2 separate regions of the Homo sapiens genome follow, and region 1 is linked to region 2. Evidence: fine-mapped expression QTL. A gene starts in region 2. The other region holds a variant in brackets. All regions are shown on one strand. Distances are between the middles of the regions.

What was found. PIP is the estimated chance that this variant, and not a neighbour inherited with it, causes the effect.
Region 1: its variant is fine-mapped to the expression of DOCK4 in whole blood (TOPMed, PIP 0.98).

Annotation. Positions count from the first base shown.
Region 1 is chr7:112,082,716-112,091,058 of GRCh38, reverse strand. The region is part of intron 1 of DOCK4 (dedicator of cytokinesis 4); the gene reads left to right. Among named protein-coding and RNA genes, the nearest start is that of DOCK4, 120 kb to the left of the region's middle. RefSeq lists an enhancer at 6,471-6,570. The variant G/T (reference allele first, on the strand shown) is at 4,777.
Region 2 is chr7:112,202,853-112,211,195 of GRCh38, reverse strand. DOCK4 (dedicator of cytokinesis 4) reads left to right here and starts at 4,797. Exons shown (of 53, transcript NM_001363540.2): 1 at 4,797-5,094. The coding sequence starts at 5,058. It overlaps ZNF277 (zinc finger protein 277), which reads right to left and starts at 4,501. Exons shown (of 12, transcript NM_021994.3): 1 at 4,389-4,501. The coding sequence starts at 4,479. RefSeq lists an enhancer at 4,286-4,405 and a silencer at 4,576-4,925.

The sequences.
Region 1 (8,343 bases), 120 kb after region 2:
CAGTACCTCTTCAGTCTAATGTTTGTGCCACCACTGATGATTCGTAAACAGACCTTTGTGGGTGTGCCTGAGGGTTAAGGTGTTTGGTGAATGTGAGCCCGGTAGAGTCAGGGGGTCCCTGCCTAGGAATCTGGAGACAGAAAATCTGGTGCTCCCCCTGCCACTTCTAGCTCTTTGAGCCAAATAACGTTATTACCCTGAACTGCAATTGATTTACCCATAAAATGAAGAGTTAAATTAAAAGATCTCCAGTTCTGAAATTCTGTCTCAATGGTCACAGTTTGCCCATCCATTCAGTGCATGTTTATTGTGATTCTTTGCTCCAGGCACTATGTTTATAGCTTACCCAGAATATAGTTTATAGAATCAAAATATGTTGTTTGCTTCTTTCCATGAAAAATAATCTGTCTAATCTTTCAAAAATGAGCTTGTATATTTAACCTTTTCAAAACCTAACCAATTTGCCCTTACTGCAATGTAGTTTTCAACTTTAAAAAGATCATAGAGTCTCCTGTTTTTCCAGGTTATAAAATATGGTTACTTACATATGCAGATGACTAGATTATTTCAGAAATAGATAAGAATGGTTTGTCTAAACAGATATTTTTGCAATGTTAGAGGTGAATTGACTTTTTCTGTTTAGCTTTCATATAGTTTTTACTTGTGAAAATATGTTTATATCTCAAAATTATTACAGGATCTTAATCCATAACTCTATATTGTACAGAATGTCTAAATGCATAATTTCTTCCCCCCAATCTCAAAATATAATTAGAATCAATTTAGCTGACAGAGTTCAGATTTTGATATCTTATTTTATAATTTATTTATCTTTTTAGAACCTCTAATGATACCATATAATTTTCCTTTATAGCACATATCACCCATGATAATTATGCATTTATTTGTGTGATTGATTCATGCTATCTTTACCTTGAGACTAAAAGCTAAAATAGAAGTTCCAGGGGCTTATCCTTGAAAGACTAACTTAGAATCTCCAGAAAGAGGGTCTTAAGAATATTTTGTGATTCTTCAGTTGACACCATAAACCTTGATTTGGAAATCTCAGTTAGCAAAAACTGATGCCAGCTTTCAAGATTTGGATTAGTTCAATGAATGCATTTAACACTGTATTAGTCAATTCTCACACTGCTATAAAGAAACACCTGAAACTGGGTAATTTATTTAAAAAAAGAAGTTTAATTGGCCCATGATTCTGCAGGCTGTACAGGAAGTGTGGCTGGGGAGTCCTCAGGAAACTTTCATCATGGCGGAAGGGGAAGCAGGCACGACTTACATTGCTGGAGCAGGAGGAAGAGCGAGAAGGGGGAGGTGCTACATGCCTTTAAACAACCAGATCTCATGAGAACTCACTCACTATCATCAGAACAATAAGGAGGAAATCCATCCCCATGATCCAGTCATCTCCCACTAGGAGATTACAGTTCAACATGAGATATGGGCAGGGACACAAATCCAAACCATATCAAACACCAAACCGTAATTTAGTATTTGATTCATATGTCCTTTGGAAGGACTTCTGGATATAAGTTAAAGTCATTGGTTTTAAGTTGTATATCCTTGAAAGGTCATTAAGTGAAAAACTGTAACTAAGATATTTATAAAAATTGAATAATGGATGGGTGATTTGTTGGTGATGGGTTTGATTATTTCTTCTGGTGGAGAATGGGAGGTCAGTGTCAACAGGGCAAAGTACAATAAGTGGGTAAAGTTTTTTGTATTGATTATATATAGCAAAGGTGTTCTTAAATTAAAACCTAATTTGAAGCCCTAGAAAGGAGGAAAGGTAATGGATCTCTAGTTTCAGGCATCAACCTTCTGGAGCATCCCTGGCCAATAAAAATGAAATGCAAGTCACACATATAATTTTAAATTTTATAACAGCCACAGTAAAAAGAACTTTAACAAGTAAAAAAAGGGAAAAATAGGCAAAATTAATTTTGACATTATATTTAACACAGTATATCTAAAATATTGTCATTTCATAACAATTATTAATTAGGTATTTTATATTCTTTTTTGGACCCAAGTCTTCGAAATCCAGTGTGTCTTTTACGTTGACAACATATAAAAACAAGCATTGACAACGTATTGAGCACTTACTGCCTGCCAGCTGTTACTGTAAGCTCTTTAAATGCATTACTTAATTAATCCTTTCAGTCACACTATGAGGTGGTAGATACTAGTGTTATCCCCATTTTATAGATGAGGAAACTGAGGGACAAAGGGGTTAAGGAACCTTCCTAAGGGCACAGAGCAACTAAGTGGCAGAGCTAGGATACATTCTCAGCAGTGCAACTCTAGAATGTTTGATGTTCACCATAAGGCTCTCCTGCCCCAGTTAACACAATCCTGCCCGATAGGAAACTAAATGAGTGGAAACTTGCCAAGGGGACTCAAAGCTAATAAGTGACTTAGCACATGTTTAAGCTCTGTGCTCTTTCCCATAGTACTAATAGAAAAAAAACAAGAGGTCATACTGGCTGCTTTAATCATGATTTTATCACTACTGAATATGAAGACTTGGATATGTACAGAAATTTTCACTTAGGAGTTTGGGTGTTTCTATGTGTATGTATATATGTGTGCAAATAAGTATTGTCTTACATGTTTTCCAAAAGAGGATAAGAAAATCCATTAATTATATAGGAGATACATTTTTTTATCTATAAACATCTAACCTTTCAAAGAATTAAAAGGGGATATTTCAGTTGCCAAAAGAACACATTTAAAAAGGCTTTGTAATTCTGTTTATTATCTGGTGGTTTATCTAGCCATGGACTGAGTGTTTAAACTTGAAGAAGAATGACCATGTATTAAAACTTCACTCTAAAACTGATCCTCCAGCCAACAGTGTGACCTGCCTGAAGATGTGATTTTATGCTTCTATGCTTTTGCCTGAAAACTCACCTAGTTGTGCTCCCTGTCTGCATGCGAGGTCTCATACGGGACCTTGTCCCACGATCCCACTGGTTTCCTGCTTGTCTACTGCCTTTCCAGCCTATTTATTTAAAAATCTACTCCCCTTCACCACTGTTGGGTATGTACCTCTTGCTAGGGACACCACTGTATTTTTGACTATTTCTATCATATTTTTTAACACCTTGTGTTGGAGTAGTAATTACAAATCTCCCACCTGCATGCCACTCCATGGATCTGTTAGAGATGTCTAAACAGGGCTGTATTTCATTCACGATGTGTCTCCTTTGTCCCATAATTGACAAATGGTCCCAATACAATGTTAATATGATGGTCTAGGTCTCAGGAGTTAGATACCCATTTCTGAGTGGGACTGGAGAGAAAGGCTTAGGGAAAAGTGAGACTCTATTTAGGAGATAACCCAAAATGAAGCTGTCTGACAGTTTTGTCTCAGGGTACATAGTATTTTAGATAACGATATCTTTTTTTCTTTTCTTCAAGGAAAAAATTCAAAGCTTAAATCTCTCATTTTTTTCCTAGACATTTTATTATTTGTTTTTGACACTTTATACTTTAAGGGTACATTCCAGAGCTGCAGGATATTTTGCTTTGTCATTATTGAATCTGAAGACTATCATGTTTATATAGGCGTCTTCAGTGAATTTGGGCAGTTTTATGAGGATGTCTATTTGTGTGCAAATAAGCATTTCCATACGTGTCTTTCAAAACAGAACAAATCTAAATCTAAAGATAATTTTCAAGTTTGGCCAGGGAATCCTTATGTTATATTGATTCCATAAAAACAGGGGTATGTATTACCTAGCAGCTGAAGAAGAGATGGCCTACATTAGGCACCTGAGTGTCAGAAGGGGTTGTCAAGAAAGTGTACAGTTAATACATAAGTCTGTCCTGATTGAATTAATTAATCAAGAACTACAGGTGTTGAAAAGAGAAATGGGTACCTGGAGAAGGACATCATCTATATTGGCATCTTGGAATGTTAAAAAAGGAAATAGCTCACCACAGCCCTAGCCTGGTGAGCTGCCCTGTCTGCACCACAAAATATAGAACTCTGAGACTCCTGAGGGTTATCTCAGTTTTTCTGTCTTTTCTTCCTTCTTACCCAGGGTTCAGCATGCAAGGTTATTCATTAAAATCCTGTCTTTTTCTGATTTGTTTTTTCAGGGGTGGTGGGGGTGCTGGTAGTGACAGAATTTTCCAATTCTCCTAGGTGCCTTTGCTTTTCTATCCTGGTGCTACTGACTGTGTAAACTGTGACAAAATTCCCTTCCAATCCTTGGTTACTGTTTAATTCCCCTACATGTGCTTCAGAGTCAACATTTAGTGTGCTTGGGCAGGATGGCCTTGGCTCAGCGTAAAACTCTGTCAGAATCGGTTAGATGTGACTTCAGAGTTGGGTTTTATTGACATTTTACATGCCCGAGTTGATTTTGGAAATTGCCTCTGTTACCACATCCTTACTTCTGATCCTAATGGGAAACCAACATTTGCTAGATTTTTGGCAACCACTGTTTTAACAGGAGGAACCTGTGTCTCATACACTGCTGTATTGCCACAGCTTTGAGTTTTGACAGTAAGGAGAAGGTAGGTACTTAATAAGTATTTATTGAGTTAATGAATTTTGGTGCTCTCGGTTCTGATTTTAAAACGTTTTCTGTTTCATTGACTCTCCTGTTAAGAAAACAAAACCTTTCCCAAACTTAGCTATTTAATATAGAAACTATAATTCTAAAGAATAAAGAGAAGAAAGAGAGAACAGACAGACACAGACGTTAACTGGTGCACGACTTATGGTCCCTATATTTAAATGGGCAT[G/T]AACTGTGGTGAGCTAGTTTTTCTGGATTTCCCTTTCTGCCTTATTTATTGTGGAAATTTGTACACAAAGGTGTACAAAGATAACGTACTATATATTCATGTATTTTTTGAACTTCAAAAATTATCCACATTTTGCCAATCTTATCCATGTCTGATCTTTCTTTTTCCTGTAGTACATTTAAGCAAATCCTAAATATGGTGTTATATTACCTCAAAATACTCCAGTATACATTTCCGAGGATTTTTTTAACCAAATTGTCATGACATGTAACATAAGGAGTAATCATTTCAAGAATTAATATCCTATACAGCCAGCCCATATTACAATGTTTCAAGGATGTACTTGTTAGCTCCAGAGACTTGATTAGACTCTGGTCTGTTTATTTGCTTTTTTTGGCAAAAATGTCTCATAGCTGGGGCTGTGTCTTTTTTTCTGCAAGAGAGACTTGTTGTCTGCCTGTGCCTCTTCCAGGGACACTGCTGAAGATACCTAGATCAGCAAGTTCAAATGCTGTCAGCCCGATCCCATTTGAAAGTTCTCTATCAAGCTTTCCCTGATGGATTTAGCATCCATTGATGATCACTGTCAAGATCCATTATTTATCTTAGGAATTAGGAAAATCTTAGTTTTCTCATTGTGATTCTGTCATTTCTTGTACATTTATTGGGTGAATTCTTCCATAAAGAACTTCTACCCATCTGCTACTTGATTACCTTGAAATACACTTTTTACAGGAAAGGTAAGATAAATGCTTGATACTTTCTCCTTATTTATAACTTTTTGGAATCATAAATTTGTACCCTGGCAACCGGCAGTAATGAATCATTGAAATTTTCTCATTAGTATCATTATGAACTCATGAGTTTTTATATATTAGATGTCTTTCAATCTAGTGCATTTTTTTCCTCTTAAATTGCCCTATCTTAGGTCACTTTGACCTCTGTTTCTTTTTGACACAGCCAAATCAGTTTTTGATGGGCTATGGATTTAAAATCTCTAATCTTGTTTACTGGTTTATGAAAGATAATTTGAAATTGCTCTCTTGAGCATCCTGACCCTTTGATTCAAGCAAATATTGTGGGACTGAGGGGAAGCTATGAAGTTCTTTGCCAAATGTTACCATGTTAAATCTCTTCATTTTGAGGAGAAAAGATTAGAAGATGGCTTTGTGATATGATCTGTGTGGCAGTTTCTGATGTTGAAGTGAATATACTAGAACAATTTTCTCATAGAATGGGATATAGTAAGAGCACTGTTCTGAAGTCAGACAGCCCTCGCTCCAAATTCCTGCTTGACCACTTCCAAGCCATACAACTTGGCCAAGTAACTTATGTTCTGTATGTTTTAGTTTTTTCATTTTCTAAAGTACACATACATGGTAATAATACCTTCCTTTTGGAATAGTTGTGTGGTTAACTTGAAGTGATAATGGTGAAAACACCCAGCAGAAAGCCGGTCACACGGGAAGTGCCTTGTAATGGTAGCATAACAATGGTAACAAGTCATGTCACTGTGATTTGGCATTAAATCTGGATATCTGTTACTTCACTCTGTACAAACATGAAGGGAGATTTTCTAAGAAAACAAGGATTTTCTTTCGTTTTCATTATGCATGTCTTGAAATTTCCTGCATTGCTCTATTTGTGGGAACTGAAACATTTTCTCAGCCCAAGCATCATGTGACTGTTTCTTATTGCTAGTCAGCAGCATGAAACCTCAGATGAAAGTATATTAACTGAGGGTCTGGTAGAACTGTTCAGCAAAGCTAAGCAGACTTTATTTAAAGAAAATGCTCATTCCCTTTTGCTGGACACACAACTTCTAAGATCCATGTATCATGCTGCTAAGTAGTGGCTTTGGGATGCTCTCTGTATAAATGAAATTTTCTAGTCAGCTGAAATTCAAACACTAAACATTCAAATATTTTAGTAGCTGCTGATATAAATTGTACTGAAATGTAATGGTTTTAAGCGGAAGCAATTTAAACATCTTTTCACTTTTTCTTTATGATTGCATCAGTCAGCTGTTGCTCCATAAAAATCAATTCCACAACTCAGTGGCTTAAACTAATTTTCATTCATTCTCACTCTCTGTGATAGAGATTGGCTGGGCATGTTCTGGGCCAGGCCTGACGGCATGACTCTACTTCATGCTGCAGGCCTGTCTGGGTTTAGGTCCTCACTGTGGATTAAGCTTAGGTCTGTTCCAGAAATGTTTATTTTGAGGGCCCAGTCTGAAGGAAGCAAACCAGCGAAGCTATTCCTATGGTCGTGGTAGGAGTACAAGAGTGTTAGCCCAACTGTGCAAGCGCACTTCAGCTGTCAACTGGAATCACATCTGATTCCATTCCGTTGGTCAAAGTAAGTCAATCACTAAGCCTAACAGCAGAGCAGGGAAGTATACTTATTCCATGAGGTGGTTAGGGAAAAGTGATTATTTGCCAAATACCAATCTAATTTACCGTACTAAACTAAGCCTTTGGTATGATCCTCTAACAAGGTTCCATACTATATGTAGTTATTATTCATATCTTTAATATCCCTGCCATCAGTTCTGACTTTTCATCTTGTTCATTCTGTGCCACGGAAAACCATGTCTTTTAAAAATTGTGTTCAGGTAAAGATAAATTCTACATGAAGATTTTAAGGCCTTCTGGGGAGTGAAGCTTTGTTTTCATAGCTATTTTGGATGTTTGGTGGCCTTTTATTTTATTTTATTTTATTTACCTTAATCATTTTGTTCCAAAAAGAATTAGAGATGTTGCCAGAAATTTGACTTCTGGGTATGAGGGGTTAAGCTCAACATGTAAAGATAAAAACTTCTAGGAAACAGAGGTTAATTCATTATGTTATAGTAACTGGGTCATACGTTATACTATTAATTCTATATTTTATATTCTAATCTTATATCTATAACCAACTCACAGAACAACTAGGGGAAAATTACCTAATCTCTAGGTACTTTTATGTAAAACCAATGGAGATGATAGATGTGAGAGCCTGAGGCAATTGTGATGGTATTCACATATCAAATAAAATTATTTTCAACTATGTTAAGATCATATTAATAAAAAATTCTACTGATTCCTAATTCATAATTAATCTGCCTAAACTACATTGAAATTTACTTTACCTTAGTGCAATTTATGGATAAAGGGATTATTTATAAAATTTATGTTGTGAACCCTCTGAAAAGAAGTACATTATTAAAATTAGAATATTTATTTGGGGCTACAATTAATGCTAATTATAATTAGTGCTAATTTCAAGTGTGCTTAATCTATTCAAAAAGTAGACCCAGTGGACTTTAAATTGACCATCTCCATAATACATTAAAAGTAATAAAGTGGTTTTTATTTAAATACATTCTAGAATAAATGATACTTTAATTTAAAATTTATTTCTAGCTAAGTCATATGGGTAGGATTTTACCAAGTTTAAAAAATTATATATTTTTCAGATACATGAATAGCACTACCAATCTCAGTTGTTTCTGATATAAAATGTCTCAGCAAGTACTGTGGTGATTAGTATTTCTCTCTCCTTTCTCTTTTTCTATATAGTAAA
Region 2 (8,343 bases):
TCACCTGCTACCCTTCCCTCTTTCTTCCAGAGACATCACACATGAGATAGTAAGTTCTCTGGAAGATAAACATTACCAAAATCATCAGATAATAAGGTCCAGAATCCAAGCATTAGCAAAATCATCAACTACTAAACACCCATTCGGAGGGAAAAAAGTTGACTTTGACAGAATATTACAATATGGAGATACAGATTAATACTCAGAAGAAATAGCCTCAGTCACAAAAGCCTCCTAAATGTATTATTACTGAATTGTGCTACCTTGCTGATTTTTAAAAACAGCAAAAGAACAAATGCCAATGACACCACGTGAGGGATGCTGAATCTATTTATTATCTGTTCTTAATTTTAGGAGACAAATTGAAATTCTGGTTACTGTTCAGATGTATGTAAAGCAGTGTCCTTTAACCCTTGACCTAGTGTGCCAGGTGCAGTAGCTCACGCCTGTAATCCCAGCACTTTGGGAGGCCGAGGAGGGTGGATCACCTGTGGTCAGGAGTTTGAGACCAGCCTGGCCTAGATGGCGAAACTCTGTCTCTACTAAAAATATAAAAATTAGCTGGGCATGGTGGCACACGCCTGTAATCCCAGCTACTCGGGAGGCTGTGGCAGGAGAATCACTTGAACCCGGGAGGCGGAGGTTGCAGTGAGCTGAGATCGTGCCACTCCACTCCAGCTTGGGTTACAGAGCAGGACTCTGTCTCAAAAAAAAAAACAAAAAAAAAAAACAAAAAACAAAAACAAAAAAAGCAAAAAAATCCTTGACCTCAATGTGGGGACTTTCTTGGAGAAGGATGGAGCCACAGAAGTCTGGCAACACAGTGGTCTCAGTGAGTGTTGCACCTGCCTGCACCCCACCCACTGACTCACTCTAGCAGAGATTTTGAGGAATTGCAAGGATTTCTATAAAAAGTCTTCCTAGGCCTCACTGTCCCAGGGTATTAAACACACAGACTAACATTTTAATCAGAGCAAGAAGAAAATCTCTTAAAAGAAGCAGTTTTCAAGAAGTCAAAAAGGTGTATGTTTTTTAAAAATTTTATTTTTATTATACTTTAAGTTCCAGGGTACATGTGCACAACTTGGAGGTTTGTTGCATATGTATACATGTGCCATATTGGTTTGCTGCACCCATTAACTCGTCATTTACATTAGGTATTTCTCCTAATGCTATCCCTTCCCCATCCCCCAACCCCACGACAGGCCCGGGTATGTGATGTTCCCTGCCCTGTGTCCAAGTGTTCTCATTGTTCAATTTCCACCTATAAGTGAGAACATGTGGTGTTTGGTTTTCTGTCCTTGCGATAGTTTGCTCACAATGATGGTTTTCAGCTTCATCCATGTCCCTACAAAGGACATGAACTCATCCAAAAAGGTGTATGATTTTTACAGGGAAAGACATACTTGATAACCTAAATGACTGCCTAACAAAAAATATACTTTTAATATAAATATTTACACCTAAAATTTATATCACACCTTGTTGGCTTTGAAAAGATTTTGGAAAAAGTAACAGAATGATACATAGGTTATTAAGCAGAATTTTTAATGACAACTTTATCTTATAAAAATGACATAAAAAATCAACCATTAATTTCTCCTGTTGACTGCTACAAGTCAATGAGAATACTGGGTATTTCTCACCGAGGGTGAGAAATTTTTTTATGTTATAGATACCGCAAATTCACTACTACTCAACACTTTTATTGAAAACAAACTGGAATCAAAAACTAAGCTTTCTATCAGTTACTTAATTCAATCTACTAGTCATTGAAACATTGGTCCTGGATTATTTCCTCAAAGTTTGTGACAATATGGGGGAAAGAACACTCATATACTACAGGTGGCAATGTATGCTGAATATATTTTAAGAGGAAAGTCTGGCATCTGTCAAAATTTTAAACTTGCATAACCTTTGATCCAGCAATTTTCTCCCAAAATATACAACCAGTGGGCAAGAATATATGTACATAAAGTTGTTCATTGCAACATTACTGAAAAACTAAAGTCACACTATATGTTCATTTATAAGGGAATGGATAAAGAATGGCACAATCATATTTTGGAATATGATGGGCACAGTCCTTAAAAAAAAAGGAAACAAATGTACTGACGTGGAAGGGTTTCTATGATAGACTGCTGAAAGAAAAAAGAAGGTTGCAGATCTTTCAGTTTATATAGATTTATCCCTTTTTATTATAAAAATCAAATCATAGGCCGGGCGCGGTGGCTTACGCCTGTAATCCCAGCACTTTGGGAGGCCGAGACGGGCGGATCACGAGGTCAGCAGATCGAGACCTCCTGGCTAACACGGTGAAACCCCGTCTCTACTAAAAATACAAAAAACTAGCCGGGCTTGTTGGCTGGCGCCTGTAGTCCCAGTTACTCGGGAGGCTGAGGCAGGAGAATGGCGTGAACCTGGGAGGCGGAGCTTGCAGTGAGCCGAGATCGCGCCACTGCACTCCAGCCTGGTTGACAAAGCGAGACTCCGTCTCAAAAAAAAAAAAAAAAAAAAAAAATCAAATCATACAGACGTGTGTCATATAAGAATATGGTGGTTTAACAGAATACGGATTGTAGGATTAAAAAAAAAAAAAGAAGAAGAAGAATATGTTGGAAAGAATATGTACCAAACTCTTATCACTTAATACTCGGGGAGTGGTGCTGTGAGGTGAGGGAATTTTCATTTTTTTTACTTCATACACTTCTGAATGGTTTGAAGTGCTTTTAAAAACTTTTAAACTTGTAAAATTTAAAAATAAATATTTTTAAATATTTTACATTTTTGAAAGGCATATCCTTTTTTTTTGTTTTGTTTTTGATACAGAGTCTTGCTCTGCCTCCCAGGCTGGAGTGCAGTGGTGGATCATGGCTCACCACAACCTCCGCCTCCCGGGCTCAAGGGATTCTCCTGCCTCGGCCTCCCGAGTAGCTGGGACTACAGGCATCCGCCACCACGCCCGGCTAATTTTTGTATTTTTAGTAGAGACGGGGTTTCACCATATTGGCCAGGCTGGTCTCGAACTCCTGACCTTGTGATCCACTCGCCTCGGCCTCCCAAAGTGCTGGTATTACAGGGGTGAGCCACCGTGCCCGGCCATTTTTTAAAATAAGTTAGACTGTGAGATAAATTCACCAGTTTAGATCTTAAACTGGTAGCCCTCTGGAACTTTGAAAATCTAGGAAACCGTAATAGTCTGTTACCATCAGATAGCCCAATATATAACCAACCCAAAAATAAACCATTAGGGTGTTAAATTCAATATTTAACTCAGGAGACTACCAAAGATTTGTTTGGTAGAGGTACTAAAATAATTTCAGAGTAGGGAGTTCCACTGTTGGGAAGTGGGAAAAAACTGCACTTCAACTCTGTGCCGCTGAGGTAAATACTTAAGATGATATCAATTTAACTGTGAAAGCAAAAACAAATAAATCGAAAAACAAAGTCGCAACAGTCTGAGAACTATATTTAAGCCCCAAACCATGTTCATCAGAAAAAGACAACTTGTGCTAAATTACACATCAAGACAAAAATGGGGTGGGGGGAATGGGGGAGGGATAGACTAAAGGTAAAAGAGTCCTAAACACAATCCACCTGCAGCTTTCAAAATTTGGTTTTTTATTCCTACAGTGGATCAGAGGACAACCTGAAAGTCAGGTACAGCCAAAGTTGTGATGGTTTTCAAAACTCTTTTCAAATGTTCTTTGAAGCCACGAGTGCAAATTATCTATCACTTTCCTTTTCTTTCTCTAAGGACCCAGAGACTGGGAAGATCTCTCAGGCTCCACATACAAATCTGAAGAACACCCAGAGCAGTTAACCATCTACAGGGAGGTTGTGAGATACACACACTTTCCCTTCAGAGGTCACCTCAGCCACAAACTGGGCAAATCTGTAGAGTGGAGAGCAGTGACCACCAGTCTGCGACTGGAAATACTCCGGAAGCTAAATAAAACACACCTGCGAGGTCAAACCAAGCAAACCAAGGCAGTGTACTGGTGAGGAGAAAGAGCTGCTAATCCCAAAATTATAAACACACGCGCGCGAACCAGATCTGAACCAAACCCACTCAGCAGCTAGCTCAAAGCTGGGAGCTCCAAACCAGAAGACAAACGCTCAGGGAGCTTCCCCGGCGGAGGGGAAGGCCATTCCATGGCATTTTCTCCGCCATCCCATGGCATTTTCTCCGCCATCCCCGGGCAGCCCCAACCAAGTAGCCGCCACCGGCTCCAACCCATCCCGCTGGGCCACCACCCGTGGGGCCCAGTCGAACCCAGGTGGCCCCAGAGCTGAAGGGCTCCTAGGGTCAGACCAGAGGTCCGTTGCACACCCGGTCATAGAGAAAGGAAGACACATCAGCCGCGCCTCCGGGGCACCGTACTCACCCCCATAACCTACACCCCCGACTGTGCTGCAGCTCCCATCACGGTCTTCCTGCATTCGGGCGACAGCCCCCTGGGTCTTGGAAGCAGCCATTACCCGGCAGAAAAGAAAAGGGAGGGCCGCAGGGCGGGTCGGAGGCGGGGTGGCACCAGTAGAAACGCTACTGGAGGCGAACTCCCCGTCGACGTAATGTTTTCTCCACACCTACGCCGCGCTCTGGACCAATAGGACGCAATCAGTAAAACTGAATCCCCGCCCCGAACCACATTTGCCGCGCCCACTTCCGGGATGGGGAGGCCAAGAACTACAATTCCCAGCGTGCTGCGGGGCCCTGGGACGGGAGGGCTGGACTAGGCGCTGGCGGGCGGGGGTGCGCCGGAGAGTGCCCCGGCGTGTTCGCTTAGTTCAGTGAATCAGAACAATGACTGCGCCGCCGGGTACCCGGGAGCGCGTCGGAGGACTGTGAGCAGCCGCCGCCGGGAGAGCTGCGGGCGGCGCAGTGTCAACGCTGGGCTCGGGAGCCTCCAGCGCAGATCCTGCCCAGCGCCCGCAGCCCGCGCGAAGCCGCTGGGCTCCGGCACTGCAGCGCTGCTCGGGGACTGTGCATTGTTGTGAGCCGGAGAAGGGGCGCGGGGATTACAAAGCCTGAAGACCCCGGAGCCCCTTTAGCCATGTGGATACCTACGGAGCACGAGAAATACGGCGTGGGTGAGTCTCCGCGGGGCGAACTTTTATTCTGCTCTGGCCCGAGCGAGTGCGCATTTCTCGTCCTTGCCCCCGCGCCCCTCTCGCTCCGCCCGGTTGAAAATGCCTAATCCTGGCATCGCGCAGCTGGTACGGGGCTTTGCCGAGCCAGCTCCAGGCAGAGGGCTGCGCACCAGGCTCTCGCCCCGCACCGCCTGCTCGGCGCGCCCCGCACTGGTTCCCGAAGCGCCGGGACAGCTTGGGGGAGCGCGCGGCCGGCCCGCTAGCTTCGGGCTCTGCCTGCGGAGTTTGGAGTGGCGACTGGGCGTGTGTGTGTGTGTGTGTGTGTGTGTCAAGTTGGAAGAGGAGGCGAATGGGGTTTCTCTCCTTCCTTACCCTTCTTCCCCAAAGCGACAGGGAGCTGCAACGGTTCCTCTGGGTGGAGAGGGAGACAACAACACTCGGGCAGAGAGAACACCCCCAAAACAGTAGGGAGGCGCAAACCCTTCCCTCTGGCTCGGATCGACATTCCCGGAGTGTGGAATGTGGCAGGGTCCTGGAGAGAGCCGCTCTGACAAGCTGAGCCCTCTCTGACCCTCCTCCCTCTCTGCGATCCCGGATTTATGGGGTGTGTATGTTGCGGGGCGGGGGCATTGGTAAATTTCAACATCTGCGCCGCTCGGTTCTTTGGTCTTTGGAGAAGAACGGGTATTTCAGCAGTGTTTTTACTTCTGGCCACCCTCTCGACCCCGGGTGAGCGCAGTGGGGGCGGTGTGGCGGTACAGGGCTGCTGAGTGATAAATGGGGAGGGGGATCGGAAAGCCTGGTTCTTGGGGGCAGGGAGATAGCTTTTAGGAAAGCATACCCTGACACTGGCGTTCGGAGAAAAAGGAACAGGATAGCTCTCGCTGTTCTGTGTAAAGGTGAACAACAAAGGACATTAATGTTGACTGATGAATACAGGAGTCTCCCTTCCTTTTCCTCCTCCCATTTCAGGCGGGTTACAGTTCCCGTTTTTGTTGTTTGATTTCAGCTGGGTCGCCCCTTGACAGTTACTCCTTTTAGGGTTGAGACTATTAAGAAGCCAGGCTCTCCGACAAGGCTGCAGCCGGCCAAATGCAATTATAACCTCCCAGAAGGTCTAACAGAAAGCATTATGGATTTTACTAACACTCTTTATTTCCTATAATGCCCTGTTCTGCCGACTGGTGTACTTTGTGTGTGTGTGTGTGTGTGTGTGTGTTTTAAAATTGAGGACAGGTCTAGTGATTTAGGTGATGTGTAGATATCTGCTTATGTTCTAAATTCATTTTCCTGCAATTTAAAACATCTGGAAAGCCTTCCCAGGGAGTCGTAGTCCGAGGGGATTTTTGTTTTTTTTTTTCCCAACTTTGCCTGGGGATAGGACTTTGGGGTCCATTGAAAGGACTGTAGGATTCAACAAAATCATTCCCACATTTCACGTTAGCTTCCATTCTGGATTGTGACTAATTACCAAGACAATAGTTTGACCTGAACCCACCTTTGGGAAAGGTTTCCAGCTTTCCCTCCTTCAAAGTGTCAGAGGAGTCTTTGCCAGCCTCTTTACTGGCAAGGAGTAGATGTTAGTAGTTGTTATTTTCGTTCTCCTCACTCTTCTCTTTTTTGGGAGGTAGATTAACCCTTGCTAGGGAAAAAGATAGTCCCTTTGCTGGACTGGTGAGGGACCCGAGGGCATCGCCTCCTAAGCGGCTTTAACACTCAGTGCAGGAAGCTCAGATCCATCCAGGCAAAACTGTCCTGCTTGGAGTCGATCCCAGATGTTGCTTTCTTCCAAGTGTTAAATTATACAGATTATGGATGGGATTTATTTTCTTGATTTCTTCATGTGCCAGGTCACAGCTGGGGTGCTGGTATCGATTAGTTCCTCTCTTGCCTTTCTTTACAAGCGGTGGGCAGAGGCTTAAAAACCACTCTGGGATTTCCTGGAATGGCAAACCGGATATTATCAGTCAAATGTTTTGGGCTGCAGCAGACACCTCGGTTTTGGGTGGTTGTGATTTGATTGCAGAGTAGGGGAGGCAGAAGGGTGTGCTCACAATTGAGAAAAAGAGGTTGAATGAGATGAAGGACGAGAGCAGAGAGAGGGTCTTTTGCCCCAAATTACTGCTGTTGTTCTCAATATCACATGTGCCAGAATGTTAATTAACCTTTATTATTAATTTTTGAGCATTTGGATTGTGGAATGCTTAGCTGTTTTTTAGAATCCATCTGTTAGGCGTGTGTGTGTGTGTGTGTGTGTGTGTGTGTGTGTGTGTGTAGTGAAATTTTTGCTAGGATACTTATGTGTGGACTTTATTTTTCACCATGGAGGGCACTGTTTATAGCTGCTTATATTGCAAGTTGTTTGTTTTTTCTTTTAACCTTGGTTAATGTTTGTGTTTTTCTCATGTAGTTCTTACAGATGTTAAAGAAAAGATCTTATGGGCACAGATCTTTGTTACCAAGTGTAGTGGTAATTTAGTTTCTTCATTCTTTGAAATAAATCAGTCTTTGTAACAGAATATGTGACGTTTTAGTATAAATTATATATTTCTGCAAAGGTACTTTTTATATACCCTCATTTATGTATGAGATAATTATGCTTTTATATACTTATGATTAAATTTTAAGCAGCATACTGTAAACATGGGTAAAATTAGTTAAATTTTATATCTGTAATTAAATGTATCGGAGATGGAAATTCTTTTTCGTAACTGATGTATAGGCACCGTCCCATTTAATGAATGATTAAATTCATTAAAACAACGAAAAGTCAGTCATAAGTGTTCTGATTTTAGGAAAAGGTATAGTGATGAAGTTATAGTTCTGAGGAACAGGGAACCTTGTCTTTTAGAAATCATGTTAAGAGGCACAGTGATAGGCAATTTCACCTTAGGAGATTCTAGTTAGCTCTTGATTCTGGGCTAGACACTGCTGCCAGCTGTGTAACCTTAGGTAAATCACTTAGCCTTTCTGGGTCCCAGCGTCTGGGGCAAGTGTTAACTAAAGCCTTCCCTGGTACTAATTTTGTAGAGCTCTTCCAACTAACTGTGTTCTTTGGTTAGAAAAACATCTTCATTGTGTTGAGACTGCTATGACAGAGACACTTTTGTTGTGACATATCTCACTTGGTTTTTAAGTAAGATCAGAGGTAAGCAAACGCTACCTGGCAAGCTGCCAGAACTGAGGTGCTGGTTCCTCTCTTTCTCAATTTGTTTGATTCTCTCTGGCTAGTAGGAGCTCCATGGGCAG